2 separate regions of the Homo sapiens genome follow, and region 1 is linked to region 2. A link means that fine-mapping ties the variant in region 2 to the expression of a gene that starts in the linked region. Tissue or cell type: whole blood. Region 2 holds a variant in brackets; the other region holds the start of a gene. All regions are shown on one strand. Distances are from middle to middle.

The links. PIP is the estimated chance that this variant, and not a neighbour inherited with it, causes the effect.
Region 1: it holds the start of TESPA1, and the variant in region 2 is fine-mapped to the expression of TESPA1 in whole blood (TOPMed, PIP above 0.99).

Annotation. Positions count from the first base shown.
Region 1 is chr12:54,981,456-54,989,775 of GRCh38, forward strand. It overlaps TESPA1 (thymocyte expressed, positive selection associated 1), which reads right to left and starts at 3,307. Exons shown (of 11, transcript NM_001136030.3): 1 at 3,130-3,307. It overlaps LOC107984515 (a long non-coding RNA gene), which reads left to right and starts at 3,396. Exons shown (of 2, transcript XR_001749161.2): 1 at 3,396-3,510.
Region 2 is chr12:54,739,507-54,747,826 of GRCh38, forward strand. No RefSeq gene overlaps it. Among named protein-coding and RNA genes, the nearest start is that of DCD, 95 kb to the left of the region's middle. The variant G/A (reference allele first, on the strand shown) is at 3,748.

The DNA.
Region 1 (8,320 bases), 240 kb after region 2:
GATGTACCTAATGTAACTGACGAGTTAACGGGTGCAGCACACCAACATGGCACATGTATACATATGTAACAAACCTGCACATTGTGCACGTGTACCCTAGAACTTAAAGTATAATATATTAAAAAAAAAAAGTCTTTCTTTCTTACCTAATTCCCAAAGGGACCAGAGAGATTACCTAATCCTGTTCACTCATTTTGTAGTTGAGGAAACTGAAGAGAGAGAGAAAGGAGGGAGAAAGAGAGAGAGAGAGGGAGGGAGAAGCAGGCTTGCCTGGAGTCACAAAGAATATTAGTGGTTTTAAATGGGAACCAAACTCACAAGTTCTGAGTTCCAGATGCATGCTTTCTTCCTTTATATCATACAGCCTTCCTCCTGCCACACTTGGTTTCCAAGGCCCAGTCCCAGGTTTGCCTTTAGTGCTCTAGGGGACATGTATGAGACAGACCTCTCTTCTCTTCTGTCTGTTTTGTACCTATGCCCCAAGCAGTGCCTGTGAGTTGAGACTGAGAGTGAGAACCAGTGTGGGAGGAGAGAAGAAGGAAATGGGGTTTCCATGATGTGGCCCATAAGACCTTCTGCATCCACAGCCAAGATATACATCATTACCATCGCAGAGCTGCGGGAAATCCCAGAGTAGCTAACATTTCTCTGTTCATGAACTGGACAAACTCCACCTCAACCCAGGTGGATTGTCCCCCATTTGACATACCCCAATCTGCAACAAATTCTCACATTCCTTCATAGAACTGTCTTCTAGCTCCTAACCCTCTTCCATGTCACTCAGGTTGGAAGATCATCAGAACAAGAATTTCCCTGAGTATAATATTTGAGCATTCTGAGACTTCTATTGTCTAAGGAGCAGTTCAATCTGTTCGGGGAAAAGGAGAGATGTTACTTGGTAAATAACAGAAAGAAAAAATGCCCATTAGTCAATAGAACTCCTATTCCCCTCCCTTTTCATACTCTTTCTCCCACAAATAAGCGTAGCTGAATAAATACTGAAAGAAGACCATCTAAGACCTTTTTCCTCTCCTTCCCTTTCTTCCTTACTTCCACTTTTAGGATATGAATTTTAAGAAAGGCTTGTATAATTGCTACAGGAAATATTAAAGTTGTGGATTTGGAAAAAAAATTAATCGCTTGTTCTCAATGTAGGGAGACATCAAATATCTTCATTTGAATGGGCAATAAAGACATCAAGAATAAGAAACAGCAGTTTATCTGAGCTGATTTATAGATGGCTTCATCAAGAGAAAGTAGGGAGAATGAGCAGATTTCTCAACCATTGTGTTAGCTCTGTGAATTCGTATCTTTAATTCTTCAGTTTCATTTCCTTGGTAATAAGCTCTGTCCTGCATATATTCATTTTTCTTCTTTCCTGCTTTTCTTTTTCAATATCTACACACTCTCTTCTCCTCGTCCCTCTACTTATTTGACTGAACTCTTTTCTCAATCTGAAATCTGTGTTTAGGCCATTCTGCATCAGGCCTGGGTGTTGTAAGGCACACAGTACTGTGGGTACTGGAATATCCACTTTGGTCTTGTGCCTTAGGTGGAAAAGAGAACAGTTGTCAGTTTGCAGGTGGAAATAAACGTGTGATCTTTTCCCCTTACTGTAGCCCAGAAGGAATCTTGTAAGTCACAGCATTGGCTGAGACGAGACCTCCATACTAGAATCCAAATCAAACATTGAACTGAAAATGACGGTTGGGGCTTCATGTTCACTACATAATGCTGAATCGCAGGGTTCCATCTTAATTTTCAAAAAACCCAAGAGTTATGAGAACATGTTGGTAGCGTGGTTGTAAATGGTTTCTAAACACCCTGGGGTGCATGCGAATAACTCAGATGTTAAATTGCTTTCTATCCCTTCTGCTATATCTTCAGCTTGTTATTTCTGATAATAGTCCAAGTAGAGACAGACAATAAACCTGACTTCCCTTCTTCCTACTAACACTTCATGCTGCAAGACAATATTGTGAGATCTTTATCTCTAATCACTCAGCTGAACAACTATTGAGTCTGATACTTGGACACACAAGTTGAAGGTTCCTACCTCCAACCTCCCATCCTAGGTACTGCCCTGCACCATCTAGAAAGTCTCCTTACCTCTCTACTCAGGACCATTTGTGGTATACAGAGTCACTAGTACTTCCCTGGATATCTCCTGTAAATGCTCACAGTCTTGTCAAATCACTTCTGTGGAACTCTCCTTTCTTGTCCTTGCCCTGCCCTGGGGACCCACCCTTTTTCTTCCACCCACTGGTGAGCTTAGTGGCACAGAAGGGGCATGGGAAAACCCCAGGGTGGAGGATCTTTCCACTCCTCCATCTACCCCAAAACTCATGTAGGTGGTGATATGCTCTGCCTGCTACCACTGGGGCAAGGGGTGTTGGAGGAGCATGAAGCCCCCAATATTATGTAGGTCACTGAGAAGGCAACACATCCATCTATCTATCTTTGAGATGTGAACCCTGAAATCTGGTCCTGATGGTGGCTATCCATCTATCTTGAGCCTCCCGGTGAATTTGACCTTACCTCACTCAAGTGTGTACATCCTCCCTCGTAGCTGACCTCAATATATCTTGCTGCAGTTTATCTCAACAAGTTTCTTCTACAGCTTCTGAAGAAAGAGGTCATACCCACAGAAAGCAAAGTTGATTTCAGCCAGGTACTCTCAATGGTTGGAGCTATGGACACTAGAGTAGGGCCTGAAATGAAACCGGGAAACTTCTTCCTTGAGAACTTTTCGATGTTATAATCAGATGGAAATTGCAGCAACAATGAGTTCAGCAAGACACAGAGAAGAACTTTGCAGGTGAGAAAGGTGAAAAAAAATTCCTAAAATGTTATTCAAGTCATCAAAGAGACCCAAGTTTTGAGAATCTAGAAAGATTACCTCTCTGATAATAAAGAGAAAACAAACAAACGAAAGCAAAAGGGCACCCAGCATCGTTCTCCTAGGCATAATGATGGATGCTTTTAAGGTTGAAGTAAGAGTGGTGGGAGATTTTCTCTTGATTTTCCCTTGACTTGACAGCCTGATTTTTCTCTGACATGTTTCCTTCTTTCTCCTAGCATCACCCTAAATCAGTACAGCCTTGAAACTGAGATAAAGGCTGTGCTTACCTGTCTGCTGGTAGAAAGCTGAGTTTGAGGCAAAGCAGTTGTCGAAGCTGGGCCGAGGCCTTCACAGGTGTGGGCACAGAGGTGAAGCAAGTGAGAAAGTATCATGTTGTAGATTATGCCTTTCTCCCTGAACTCATTCAACTGCTGTTGCCTGCTCAAAAGGGGAAGCGGAAATGAGAACACACCACACACACACACATCCACACATGTAGATGCAGTCCCCGCCTCCTGGCCCAGCCACATCCTTTGCTCCGGCTCAGGAGACTGAGCGAAGGACAAACCATCCGTAGACACGGTGCTCACAACTAGGAAGACCTTCCTGCCCCAGAGCTGCCTCTGTCTTTCCAGAAAAACAGGAGATCTTTTCCTATTAAGGCAAAGGTACAGTCCATTTAAAGAGGTGTGTGCAGGAGTCTTCCTACCATATAACTAGAATTCCACTGCTGCAGATAAATCCTTCTGTCCTCAGGAGAGCTGTCTGAAAATGGGAAAGCTCTCTCTCATAAATGATCTGGCGTTTATCTCAGAGAAGAAGTTTCCAGTCGTATCACACACTTGAGAGGGCTCTGAGCCAGTCGCTCTGTGTTGATAACTTTCATACTCTGGTAAATTCCCCCGAAGCTTGTTTTTGAATACTGACTACTTTTTTTTTCTGTTAGTTTCTTAACTTTGTTTTATGTTCAAACCACTTCAAAGTTTTTGTTTTTGTAGTAAATGACTGCTTTCCCCAACGTTTTCAAAGCTGAACTTTTAAAATCGGTTACACCCTGAAGATGTCTTCAGTTTATTGGTTTTCAGTTTGGAAAAGGCTTGTTGAACTCTAAAAGGTTTCTCCCAGGCCTCAATCACTTTCACCCACCGGGAGCATCCAGCACTGCTAACTATCCCTCCTCGCTTCTCCAGTATCTCTGAACACTCTTCTCCGTAGGATGCTGCTGCATTTTGGATATCTTCTTTCTGTCTCTCTCCTGATTCTACTGTTTCCTTCTTTAAATCATTTATTTATGAATGTATATCACAATATTTATTCTACAAGGCACTCCTCTAATGTGTTAATTGTGACTGATTTTCACATGTTCATTACCTTCTTTCTGATTTTTTGGCTATAGGTATAGTTAGATTTTTTTTTTACCATGTTTCTAAATTCCATTTCCAATCATCAATGGGACAACTCCATTGAGTATCCATAGTATAGCTATAATATGGTAGAAATAATCCTAAATAAAATTCTTGCTTGGCAAATTAAGTTCTCAAAACATTATTTTCTTCAAGTATAATGTGAGGAAAATAACAATTCTCTCTGTTTCTCACTCAACCCTTCTCCCACGCTATTCCTTTTACGTAGGCATGAAAATATCTAACATATTTTCTCAGGACATAGTAGATGCTAAATATGTGCTTCTCTGAGAATTAGCTTCACAGTCAACAAGTAAAATGCTAAATCCAACACGCCCTAATTCTCTTTATTTACTATTCTTTTCCGTACAAATTAACTATAAAAGCTGAACTAATGGAAACTTAACAACTCTTTTAAATCCTAAGTTTCTAGAATTCAATGTTTTCCTTAACAGTTGTTTTCCAATATGTTTGGGAAATGGAGAATATAACTTCGGTAGGGAGTTTGGAAATATGTGAGAGAGATTTAATTTTCAAAGAAATGGGAAGCTGATACTGGTATTTAGTACCTGAGGGCCAATGATGATAAGTGCTTTTGAAGGGATGGGACTCTTCAGTATAAGGAATAATTGTCCTGGCCCAAATGTCAACATTTTGTTAACATTGATAGTTTGATGGTTAGGAGAGCAGGCTTTAGAGTGAAGCTCTGGCATCAAGTAGCTCTGTAGTCTTGGATACGTTAACATCTCTAGGTCTCAGTTTGTTAGCTGCTAAATGGGGATAACCTTACAGGAGTGGTTGTAGAGCTATAAGAATAAAGGAATACAGAGTATTCAGTCCAGCGCCTACCTTACAGCAAATGCTCAAGAAATTGCAGCTATTTTTAAGACTCTTGAAATATAATAGTTTCTTTTAACTTTTATTTTAAGTTCAGTGGTACATGTGCAAGTTTGTTACATAGGTAAACTCCTGTCATAGGGGTTTGTTGTACAGATTATTTCATCACCCAGGTATTAAGCCTAGTACCCAATAGGTATTTGTTTTGATCCTCTCCCTCCTTCCACCCTCTACCCTCCCATAGGCCCCAGTGTGTGTTGTTTCCCTCTATGTGTCCATGTGTTCTCATCATTTAGCTCCCACTTATAGGTGAGAACATGCGGTATTTGGTTTTCTGTTCCTGTGTTAGTTTGCTAAGGATAATGGCCTCCAGCTCCATCCATGTTGCTGCAAAGGACATGATCTCATTCTTTTTTATGGCTGCATAGTATTCCATGGTGTATATGTGCCACATTTTCTTTATCCAGTCTATCATCACTGGGCATTTGGGTTGATTCCATGTCTTTGCTATTGTGAATAGTGTTGCAGCAAACATACATGTGCTCGTGTCTTTATAACAGAATGATTTATATTCCTCCAGGTATATACTCGGTAATGGGATTGCTGAGTCTAAAGATATTTCTGTTTTTAGGTCTTTGAGCAATCGCCACATTGTCTTCCACAAGGGTTGAACTAATTTACACTCCCGCCAACAGTGTATAAACATTCCTTTTCCTCTGCCACCTCGCCAACATCTTTTATTTTTTGACTTTTTAATAATAGCCATTCTGAGTAGTGTGAGATGGTATCTCATTGTGGTTTTGATTTGCATGAAATATAATATTTTCAGTTTCTGCAGAATACTATGTCTATCTGTCAAAATTACCTCACTCATTAAAGATACCATTTCACAAGCAATTGCTAGAGATTTTTTTGTTAATAAAAAAGATGTATTAATTTTTGGTTTTTATTTATATTTATTCTTAATTTTTATGAGTACATATGTAGGTTTATATGTTTATAGTATTTGTGATTTATTTTTTGAAAGAAATATTTTTCTCTTCTACAAGCAGCTTCTGAAAGACAAAGATGAAGACTATATGATTCCTAGGAGGAGGAGGCGGCCCAGGGTATTCCTCTGTTTATCTTCTTTCTCAGTTGTATAGTCTTTCTCTTTCTTTCTTTGTTTCTTTCCTTCTTTCCCTTCCTTCCTTCCATTCCTTTTCCTTCCTTCCTTCCTTCCTTCCTTCTTTCCTTCCTTCCCTCCTTTCCTCCTTCCCCTTTCTCTTTTTTCCCTCTCACCTGCCCTTCCCACCCTTTGAAAACATTGTCTCTATATCTTTGGCACCATGAACTTCTCTGAGCATATATTCCAGGTGCTTCATGAAAACAAAATGACTTGTTCTTTTTATACGAGACGCAGTAGTTCAGGGTTTCTGAAGGTTTTTTTGTGAGCTTGTTCATTTTTTTTCCCTTGGTTAAAAATAAAAACCCTTATGCTAACTGAGATAATGAATTAGCTCTCTACTGCCTATGTGATTCAGCAGTTTGGTGCCTCATGATAGGGCCTATTTGTCATTCCATGGCTCCCTCTCTTGTGTTTTATAGAATTTAGTAAAAACCCTGAACTAGGGGTAAAAGAGCAATCTGAGTTTAAAACTATACTAGTTACTTAATTTCACTGGATATCGGTATCACCTTCTGACAGAGAAATATTTTCTAAGATCCTCTTGGCTTTAGATGTCAGTAACACCTGTACAGACTATTTTTCTCTACCCTTTTATAACTGCATGTAGTTTATTATGGAAAATGAAAATATTAAGTGATATTTGGTAAGAAATTATTATAAAGGTATTAGAAAAAGTATTTTGAAAGACTCTTTTCCATTGAAAAGCCAAGTAAATATTGCTTTTGAATAATATTATCCTCTAGACATGTAACCTGATAACACTGATAAATAAGAACAATTTCTGAACACTGATGAGCCCATCAAACAGATGGGCTGTAGTGAGTATAAGTTCTGGAGCTGCAGAACTACAGGCTGAGCTGGCAGGTTGCCCAGACCTGGGGCAGAGCCAGGACAGCTGTCCATAGAGGCTGTCCCAAGACAGAGAAGCTGCTGCTCAGAGCCACTGCTCTGGGCCGAGCAGCTGGGCCCCTCTGCCCAGGCCCAGATGCAAATCATCTGCCTCCATTTCAGCTCTCAACCTTCTTCTTTCTCAGATCCTGGGGTTTGCAAATGCCATTTTTGTTTTGTTTTGTTTGGCTGTTTTGTTTTTTTTGCTAAGAGTCTGTTCCTCCAAATTGCTGATGTGGGAATTTGAGTGACTTTGTCTCCTTCCTGTACCAAAGGCTCAAAAGTAGAAAGAGAGAGTGGATAGAATTGTAGGGGAGAGAGCAGTGATTTAACTCACCAAGGATTTTCTGAACTTTCTCCAGGCAGAAAAGTGTCCACCAAGGTCATCTTGTTCTTTTCTCTGCTTCTATGTTCTGGTTGTTAAGGATACAAACAAATGGGATTCTCTAACTTTTCTAACCTACCCATTCTACTAAATTACTCCACTCAATGCCAGAAAGTTCTTCCTTCTGTCTGGCTGTATCTTCCCTCTGTAAGAGTCCAGCAAAACAGAAGAGCAATCCATCTCAGGCCTCTGCAGAGGGTGTTCTTTCAGTGATCTGGATTGTAATTCTACCCAAAATGTATTTTATTGGATACCTTCTGAGTGTCAGAAATGAGATAGATCTGGGGAAGGGACTGAGGGGAGTATAGAAGGAGAGGAAGATATACAAGGGGGAGAAACAGTATCAAATACTGTCCCTTAGAGGGCTTATTTTCTAGTATGATCAAGTAATTTGGGGAAATACAGGGTTAACAAAAGACAAACATGTTCCTTTAAGGCAGTGGTCCCCAACCTTTTGGCATCAAGGACTGGTTTCATGGAAGACAATTTTTCCATGGGAGCAGGGTGAGGGGGAGGGTTTGGCGATGAAACTGTTCCACTTCAGATGATCATGCCTGCCACTCACCTTCCTGCTGTGAGGCCAGGTTCCTAACAGGCAACCAAACTGTGCTGGTCTGTGGTCCAGGGGTTGAGGCCCCCTGCTTTAAGGCATAACTTCTTGAGGCTTTTAATAGATTAACATGAATTGTGACTCTCCTAGAAGGAGAAAGTTTTGTATTTCCCAAATGTATTGGCCTATGGATTCCCCTGCCCTCCCCTCCCCTCCCCTCTCCTTCCCTACCCTTCCCTTATCTTTC
Region 2 (8,320 bases):
ATTCTGTGAAGAATGATGGTGGCATTTTGATGGGGATTGCATTGAATTTGTAGATTGCTTTTGGTAGTATGGTCATTTTCACAATACTGATTCTACCCATCCATGAGCATGGTTTGTGTTTCCATTTGTTTGTGTCATCTATGATTTCTTTCGGCAGTGTTTTGTAGTTTTCCTCGTAGAGGTCTTTCAACTCCTCGGTTAGGTATATTACTAAGTATTTGTTTTAATTTTTTTTGCAGCTATTGTAAAAGGGGTTGAGTTCTTGATTTGATTCTCTGCTTGGTCGTTGTTGGTGTATAGAAGAGCTACTGATTAGTGTACATTAATCTTGTATCCAGAAATTTTGCTGAATTATTGTATCAGTTCTTGGAGCCTTCTGGAGGAGTCTTTAGGGTTTTCGAGGTAAACAATCATATCATCAGCGAACAGTGACAGTTTGAATTCCTCTTTACTAATTGGATGCCCTTTATTTCTTTCTGTTGTCTGATTGCTCTGGCTAGGACTTACAGTACTATGGTGAAGAGGAATAGTGAGAGTGGGCATCCTTGTCTTGTTCCAGTTCTCAGAGGGAATGCTTTCAACTTTTCCCATTCACTATTATGTTGGCTGTGGGTTTGTCATAGATGGCTTTTATTACATTGAGGTATGCCCCTTGTATGCTGATTTTGCTCAGAGTTTTAATTAAAAGGGATGCTGGATTTTGTCAAATGCCTTTTCTGCATCTATTGAGATGATCATGTGATTTTTGTTTTTAATTCTACTTATGTGGTATATCACATTTATTGACTTGCATATGTTAAATCATCCCTGCATCCCTGGTATGAAGCCACTTGATCATGGCGGATTATCTTTTTGATATGTTGTTGGATTCTATTAGCTAATATTTTGTTAAGGATTTTAACATTTATGTTCATCAAGGATATCGGTCTGTAGTTTTCTTTTTTGGTTATGTCATTTCCTGGTTTTGGTATTAGGTTGATGCTAGCTTCATAGAATGAATTAAGGCAGGTTCCCTCTTTTTCTAACTTGTGGAATAGTGTCAAAAGAATTGGTACCAATTGGTCTTTGAATATCTGGTAGAATTCTGTTATGAATCTGTCTGGTCCTGGACTTTTCTCTGTTGGTGATTTTAAATTACCATTTCAATCTTGCTGCTTATTCTTGGTCTGTCCAGGGTATCTAATTCTTCCTGATTTAAGCTAGGAGGGTTGTATTTTTTCAGAAATTTATCCATATCTTCTAGGTTTTCTAGTTTATGTGCATAAAGGTGTTCATAGTAGCCTTAAATAACCTTTTGTATTTCTGTGGTGTCAGTTGTAACATCTGCTGTTTTGTTTCTTATTGATGCTATTTGGATTTCTCTCTTCTTTTCTTTATTAATCTTGCTATTGGTCTATCAATTTTATTTGTCTTTTCAAAGAACCAGCTTTTTGTTTTATTTATCTTTTGTATTTTTTTGGTTTCAATTTCATTTAGTTTTGCTCTTATCTTGGTTATTTCCTTTCTTCTGCTGGGTTTGGGTTTGGTTTGTTCTTGTTTCTCTTGTTCCTTGAGGTATAACCTCAGAGTGTCATTTTGCACTTTTTCAGTCTTTTTAATGTAGGTATTTAGGGCTATGTACTTTCTTCTTAGCACTGTCTTTGTTGTATTGCAGAGGATTGATAGGTTATGTCACTATTGTCATTCAGTTCGAATAATTTTTAAATTTACATCTTGATTTTGTTTTTGACCTGATGATCATTCAGGAGCAGGTTATTTAGTTTCCATGTATTTGCATAGTTTCAAAGGTTCCTTTGGGAGGTGATTTCCAGTTTTATTTCACTGTGGTCTAAGAAAGTGCTCGATATAATTTAAATTTTCTTAAATTTATTGAGGCTCATTTCGTGGCCTATCTTATGGTCTATCTTGGAGAAAGTTACATGCACTGTTGAATAGAATGTGTATTCTGCAGTTGTTGGATGGAATGTTCTGTATATATCTATTAAGTTTATTTGTTTCAAGGTATAGTTTAAATCCATTATTTCTTTGTTGACTTTCTGTCTTGATGACCTGTCCAGTGCTGTCAGTGGAGTATTGATGAAGTCCCCCACTATTATTGTGTTGCTGTCTTTTTCATTTCTTAGGTCTATTAGTAATTGTTTTATAAATTTATGAGCTGCAATGTTAGGTGCTTATATGTTTAGGATTGTGATATTTTCCTGTTGGACAAGACCTTTTACCATTACATAATGTCCCCTTTGTTTTTTTTAACTGCTCTTGCTTTAAAGTTTGTTTTGTCTGACATAATAATAGCTACTCCTGCTTGCTTTTGGTGTCCATTCACATGAAATGCCCTTTTCCACCCCTTTAAGTTTATATGAATCCTTGTGTGTTAGATGAGTCTCTTCAAGGCAGCAGATAGTTGGTTGGTGAATTCTTATTCATTCTGCAGTTCTGTATCTTTTAAGTGGGGCATTTAGGCCATTTACATTCAATGTTAGTATTGAGATGTGAGGTACCATTCCATTCATCTTGCTATTTCTTGACTGTGTACCTTGGTTTTTTTTTTTTGCTTTTTAACTTGTGTTTTTGTTTTATAGGTCCTGTGAGATGTATACTTTAAAGATGCTCTGTTTTGGTGTATTTCCAGGATTTGTCTCAAGATTTAGAGCTCCTTTTAGCAGTTCTTGTAGTGGTGGCTTGGTAGTGGCGAATTCGCTCAGCATTTGTTTTTCTGGAAAAGACTGTATCTTCCTTTACATATAATGTTTAGTTTTACTGGATAAAAAATTCTTGGCTGATAATTGTTTTGTTTGAAGAGGCTGAAAACAGGGCCCCAATCCCTTCTAGCATGTAGGGTTTCTGCTGAGGAATCTGCTGTTGATCTGATAGGTTTTCCTTTATAGGTTACCTGGTGCTTTTGTCTCACAGCCCTTAAGATTCTTTCCTTTGTCTTAACTTTGGATAACCTGACGACAATGTGCCTAGGTGAAGATCTTTTTGTGATGAATGTCCTAGGTGTTCTTTGTACTTCTTGTATTTGGATGTCTAGGCCTCTGGCAAGGCTGGGGAAGTTTTCCTTGATTATTACTCCAAGTATGTTTTCCAAACTTTAGATTTCTCTTCTTCCTCAGCGATGCCAATTATTCTTAGGTTCAGTCATTTAACATAATTCCAGACTTCTTGGAGGCTTTGTTTATGTTTTCTTATTCTTTTTTCTTTGTCTTTGTTGGATTGAGTTAATTCAAAGACTTTGCCTTCAGCTCTGAATTTCTTTCTTCTACTTGTTCAATCTATTGCTGAGACTTTCCAGAGCATTTTGCAATTCTATGTGTCCAGCGTTTCCTGCAGTTTTAATTGTTTTTTTATTTATGCTATTTATTTCCTTGAATATTTCTCCCTTCACTTCTTGTATTTTTTTCTTTTTATTTCCTTGCATTGGGTTTTTGCCTTTCTCTGTTGCCTCCCTGATTAGCTTAATAACTAACCTCTTGAATTCTTTTTCAGGTAAATTGGGGATTTCTTCTTGGTTTGGATCCATTACTGGTGAGGTAGTGTGATTTTCTGGGGGTGCAAAAGAGCCTTGTTTTGTCATACTACCAGAATTGGTTTTCTAATTCCTTCTCATTGGGGTAGGCTCTGTCAGAGGGAAGGTCTAGGGCTGAAGGCTGTTGTTCAGATTCTTTTGTCCCATGGGGTGTTCCCTTGATGTAGTACTCTCCCCTTTTCCTATGGATGTGGCTTCCTGAGAGGTGAGCTGTAGTGATT[G/A]TTATCTCTCTTCTGGGTCTAGCCACCCAGCAAATCTATCAGGCTCCAGGCTGGTGCTGGGGGTTGTTTGCACAGAGTCCTGTGATGTGACCTGTCTATGGGTCACATCCCATGGATACAAGCACCTTTTCTGGTGGAGGTGGCAGGTAGGTGAAATGGACTCTGTGAGGGTTCTTAGATTTCTTGGTTTAACGCTCTATTTTGGTGCTGGTTGGCCTCCTGCCAGGAGGTGGTGCTTTCCAGAGAGCATCAGCTGTGGTAGTATGAAGAGGAACCAGTGGTGGGCAGGGCCCTAGAACTCCCAAAAGTACATGCCCTTTGTGTTCAGATACCTGGGTGGATAGGGAAGGACCATCAGGTGGGGGCAGGGCTAGGTGTGTCTGAGCTCAGACTCCTTGGGCAGGTCAGTTGTGGCTGCTGTGGGGGATGGGGGCGAGGTTACCAGTTGAATGGAGTTATGTACCTAGGAGGATTATGGCTGCCTCTGCTGAGTCATGCAGGTTGTCAGGGAAGTTGGGGAAAGCTGGCAGTCACAGACCTCACCCAGCTCCCATGCAATCTGTAGGGCTGGTCTCACTCCCACCGTGCCCCACCTAAAAGCACCGCCTCTGTTTCCAGGCAGTGGGCAAGCAGGGCTGAGGACCTACCCCAGACTACCTACCTCCCAGCTACAAAAGAATAGGGCTTTAGTTCTTCCTCTGCCTGTGGAGTCTGCAGGCCAGATTCATGCCTTCCCCTGAGTTCTGGCCAGGAGGCTTCTGGAGTGTTTCAAATTGTTACAAAGTTCAGCTGGAGGTTTCCTTCTCCCTGTGGCATTTTCCCCACACCTCTGGCTTCCCTCCCAAAGGATCCCTGTGATGCCAGGCAGGAATAGCCTGCTTCAGGACCCAGTCAACTTCCAGGGCCTTTCCTGGTGCTTCTTCTACCCTTGTGTTTCGCTCAGCTCTCTAAATTGACTCAGCTACAGGTAAGGTCAGAATCTTCTGCAAACTAGACCTTCAGTTTCCCCAGTAGGGGTGTGTGTTCTGGGATGGAGGATCTCCCTTTCTCACTTCTGCAGTTTGGGCAGTCACAGTATTTGGGATGTCTCCCAGGTCCTGCAGGAACAGTCTGCTTCCTTTGGATGATCTGTAGATCCTCACAGGTTTCCTGATTTATTCCTGCAGTCATTCTGGAGCTAAAATTCACAATGCAAGCTTCCGCATGCAGCAAGCTAGTCCTGCCTCCCATCCACCATGATGATCTTTTAAGTCTAATGTGTGACATCATTTTTGAAGTACTGCCAAACAGCTTGGCTCATTGGAGCCTTGTTGTCCAGAGTTTTTATTGGGGGTCAGTTGCATGGGCATGGAACATCCACTTGACTGACCTAAGCTACTCAGTTGCCAGCTCCCCCAGAGGTCAAACTGATGCATTGTGGCCCAGAAACAGATAAACAGAAACATGAATTCAACATAAATCACATTGTTCGCATAAATTATCTGGTGTGGCTCAAGGTCTTGGGTTTACAAAGACATTCATTAAGAAGGCTATTCCAAAAGGCTCAGAGGTTATCTCCCAGGAGCTGATCAAAGGCCAGTCCTTTGTTTGGAATGTGCAGGGTTTGAACACACCAGGCCTAGCTGAGATAACCTTTTACTGTATTTGCAGAATTTACTGCACTTGCAGAATTTACTCTTCACACAGAATGCTATGAGGGTTAGCAATGCATCTGAATGGCACACGTTTGTATTATTGATGTTGTTAGGTTATTGGCTATCAAGGAATCTTTAAGATAATATGATCATTGGTCATGCAGGTGTTCAGTAATGCCAGAAATGGATGTGGAAGTAGGTATTCAGATAAAGGCAGAAGTTGAAGTCAAAGTTGAAGAGCAGATTCAAAGACAAAAGAGATTTTTTTTATAAAAATGCATTTAAAAATTATTTATTTTTATTGATATATAATACTTTACATATTTATGGCATAAATATGATATTTTGTTGTATGCATAGAATGCATAATGATAAAGTCAGGGTATTTGGGTTATGTATCACCTTCAGTATTATCTCTGCATTGGGAACAATTCAAGTACTCTCTTCTAGCTACTTTGAAGTATATGTTGCAACTATAGTCACCCTACTCTGCTATTGAACATTAGGACTTATATCTTCTATCTGACTGTATTTTTGTAGCCATTAACCAACCTCTCTTCATCACTTCTTCCACCCACATTCTGTTCCCAGCCTCTGGTATCTATCTTCTACTTTCTACCTTCTCAAGATCAAGTATTTAGCACTCACATATGAGTGAGAACATGTGATATTTGAAGCCACTTGGTGAAAGTGGGCATACTTATCTTGTCCCAGTTCTTAGAGGAAAGGCTTTCAGCTTTCTACCATTCAATATGATATTAGCATGGATTTGTCACATATGGCCTTTATTGTTTTGAGGTACGTTCCTTCTATGCCTGGTTTGTTGAGAGTTTTTATCATGAAGGGATGTTGAATTTTATCAAATTATTTTTCTGCGTATTTGAGATGATCATATGGTTTTTGTCCTTCATTTTGTTGATGTGATGTATCATGTTTAATGATTTGCATATGTTGAAGCATTCTTAGATCCCTGGGATGAATCTTACCTGATCATGGTGTATGATCTTTTGATGTTCTGTAGGATTCAGTTTGCTAATATTTTGTTGAGAATTTTTGCATCTATATTCATCGGAAATATTGGCCTGTAGTTTCTTTTTTGTTGTGTCCTTGTCTAGTTTTGGTATCAGGTAATGCTGGCCTCACAGAATGAGCTAGGGAGAATTCTTTCCTCTTGAATTTTTTGAAATAATTTGAGGAGAATTGGTGTTAGTTTCTCTTTAAAGATTTGGTAGAATTTGGCACTAAAACCACCTAGACTCCTAGATTTGATAAATGAATTCAATAAAGTCCCAGGTTACAAAATCAATGTACACAAATCAGTAGCACTGCTACACACCAACAGCAACCTAGCTGGGAATCAAATCAAGAACTCAACCCCTGCCTTTTTTTTTTTTGAAACAGAGTCTCACTCTGTCACCCAGGCTGGAGTGCAGTGGCGTGATCTTGGCTCACTGCAACCTTTGCCTCCCGAGTTCAAGCTATTCTCCTGCCTCAGCCTCCTGAGTAGCTAGACTACAGGCACCCACCACCATGCCCAGCTATTTTTTTTTTGTATTTTTAGTAGAGACGGGGTTTCACCATATTGGCCAGGCTGGTCTTGAACTCCTGACCTTGTGATCTGCCTGCCTCAGCCTCCCAAAGTGCTGGGATTACAAGTGTGAGCCACCATGCCTGGCTGAACTCAATCCCTTTTAAAACAGCTTCAAAAACATAAAGTATCTAGGAATACACCTATCCAAGGAAAGATTTCTGCAAGTAAAACTGCAAAACACTGCTGAAAGAAATCATAGACCACACAAACAAATGGTAACACATCCCATGCTCATGGATGGGTAAAATCAATATCGTGAAAATGGCCATACTGCCAAAAGCAATCTGTAAGTTCAATGCAATTCCCATCAAAATGCCGCTATCATTCTTCACAGAACTAGAAAAGACAATCCTAGAATTCATATGGAACCAAAAAAGAGCCCATGTAGCCAAATCAAGACTAAGCAAAAAGAACAAATCTGGAGGCATCACATTACCTGACTTCAAACTCTACTACAAGGCTATAGTTACCAAAACAGCTTGGTAGGCAGTGTACAGTGGCTCACGCCTATAGTCCCAGCACTTTGGGAAGCTGAGGTGGGCAGATCACTTGAGGTCAGGAGTTCAAGACCAGCCTGGCCAACATAGTGAAACCCAGTCTCTACTAAAAATACAAAAATTAGCTGGGCATGGTGGCACGTGCCTGTAATCCTAGCTACTTGGGAGGTTGAGGTGGAAGAATTGCTTGAACCCAGGGGGCAGAAGTTGCAGTGAGCCAAGATTGTGCCACTGCATCCCAGCCTGGGGGACAGAGTGAGACCTTGACTCAAAACAAACAAACAAACAAACAAACAACAACAACAAAAAACAAAAACAGCATGGTATTGGTAAAAAACAGGCCCATAGGCCATGCGAACAGAATAGAGAACACAGAAATAAAGCCAAATACTTACAGCCAACTGATCTTTGACAAAGCAAACAAAAGCATAAAGTGGGGAAAGGACACTCAATTCAATAAATGGTGCTGGGATAATTAGCAAACCACATGTAGAATGATCCTCATCTCTCACCTTGTACAAAAATCAACTCAAGATGGATCAAAGACTTGAATCTAAGACCTGATACCATAAAAATTCTAGAAGATAATGTAGGAAAAGGTCTTCTAGACATTGGCTTAGGCAAAGAGTTCATGACCAACAACCCAAAAGCAAATGCAACAAAAACAAAGATAAAGAGATGGGACTTAATTAAAACAAAAAACTTCTGCACAGCAAAACAAATAATCAGCAAACAGACAACCCACAGAGTGGGAGAAAATATTCGCAAACTATGCATCCAACAAAGAACTAATATCCAGAATCTGCAAGTAACTCAAAGTCAGAATGAAAAAAACAAATAATCCCATCAAA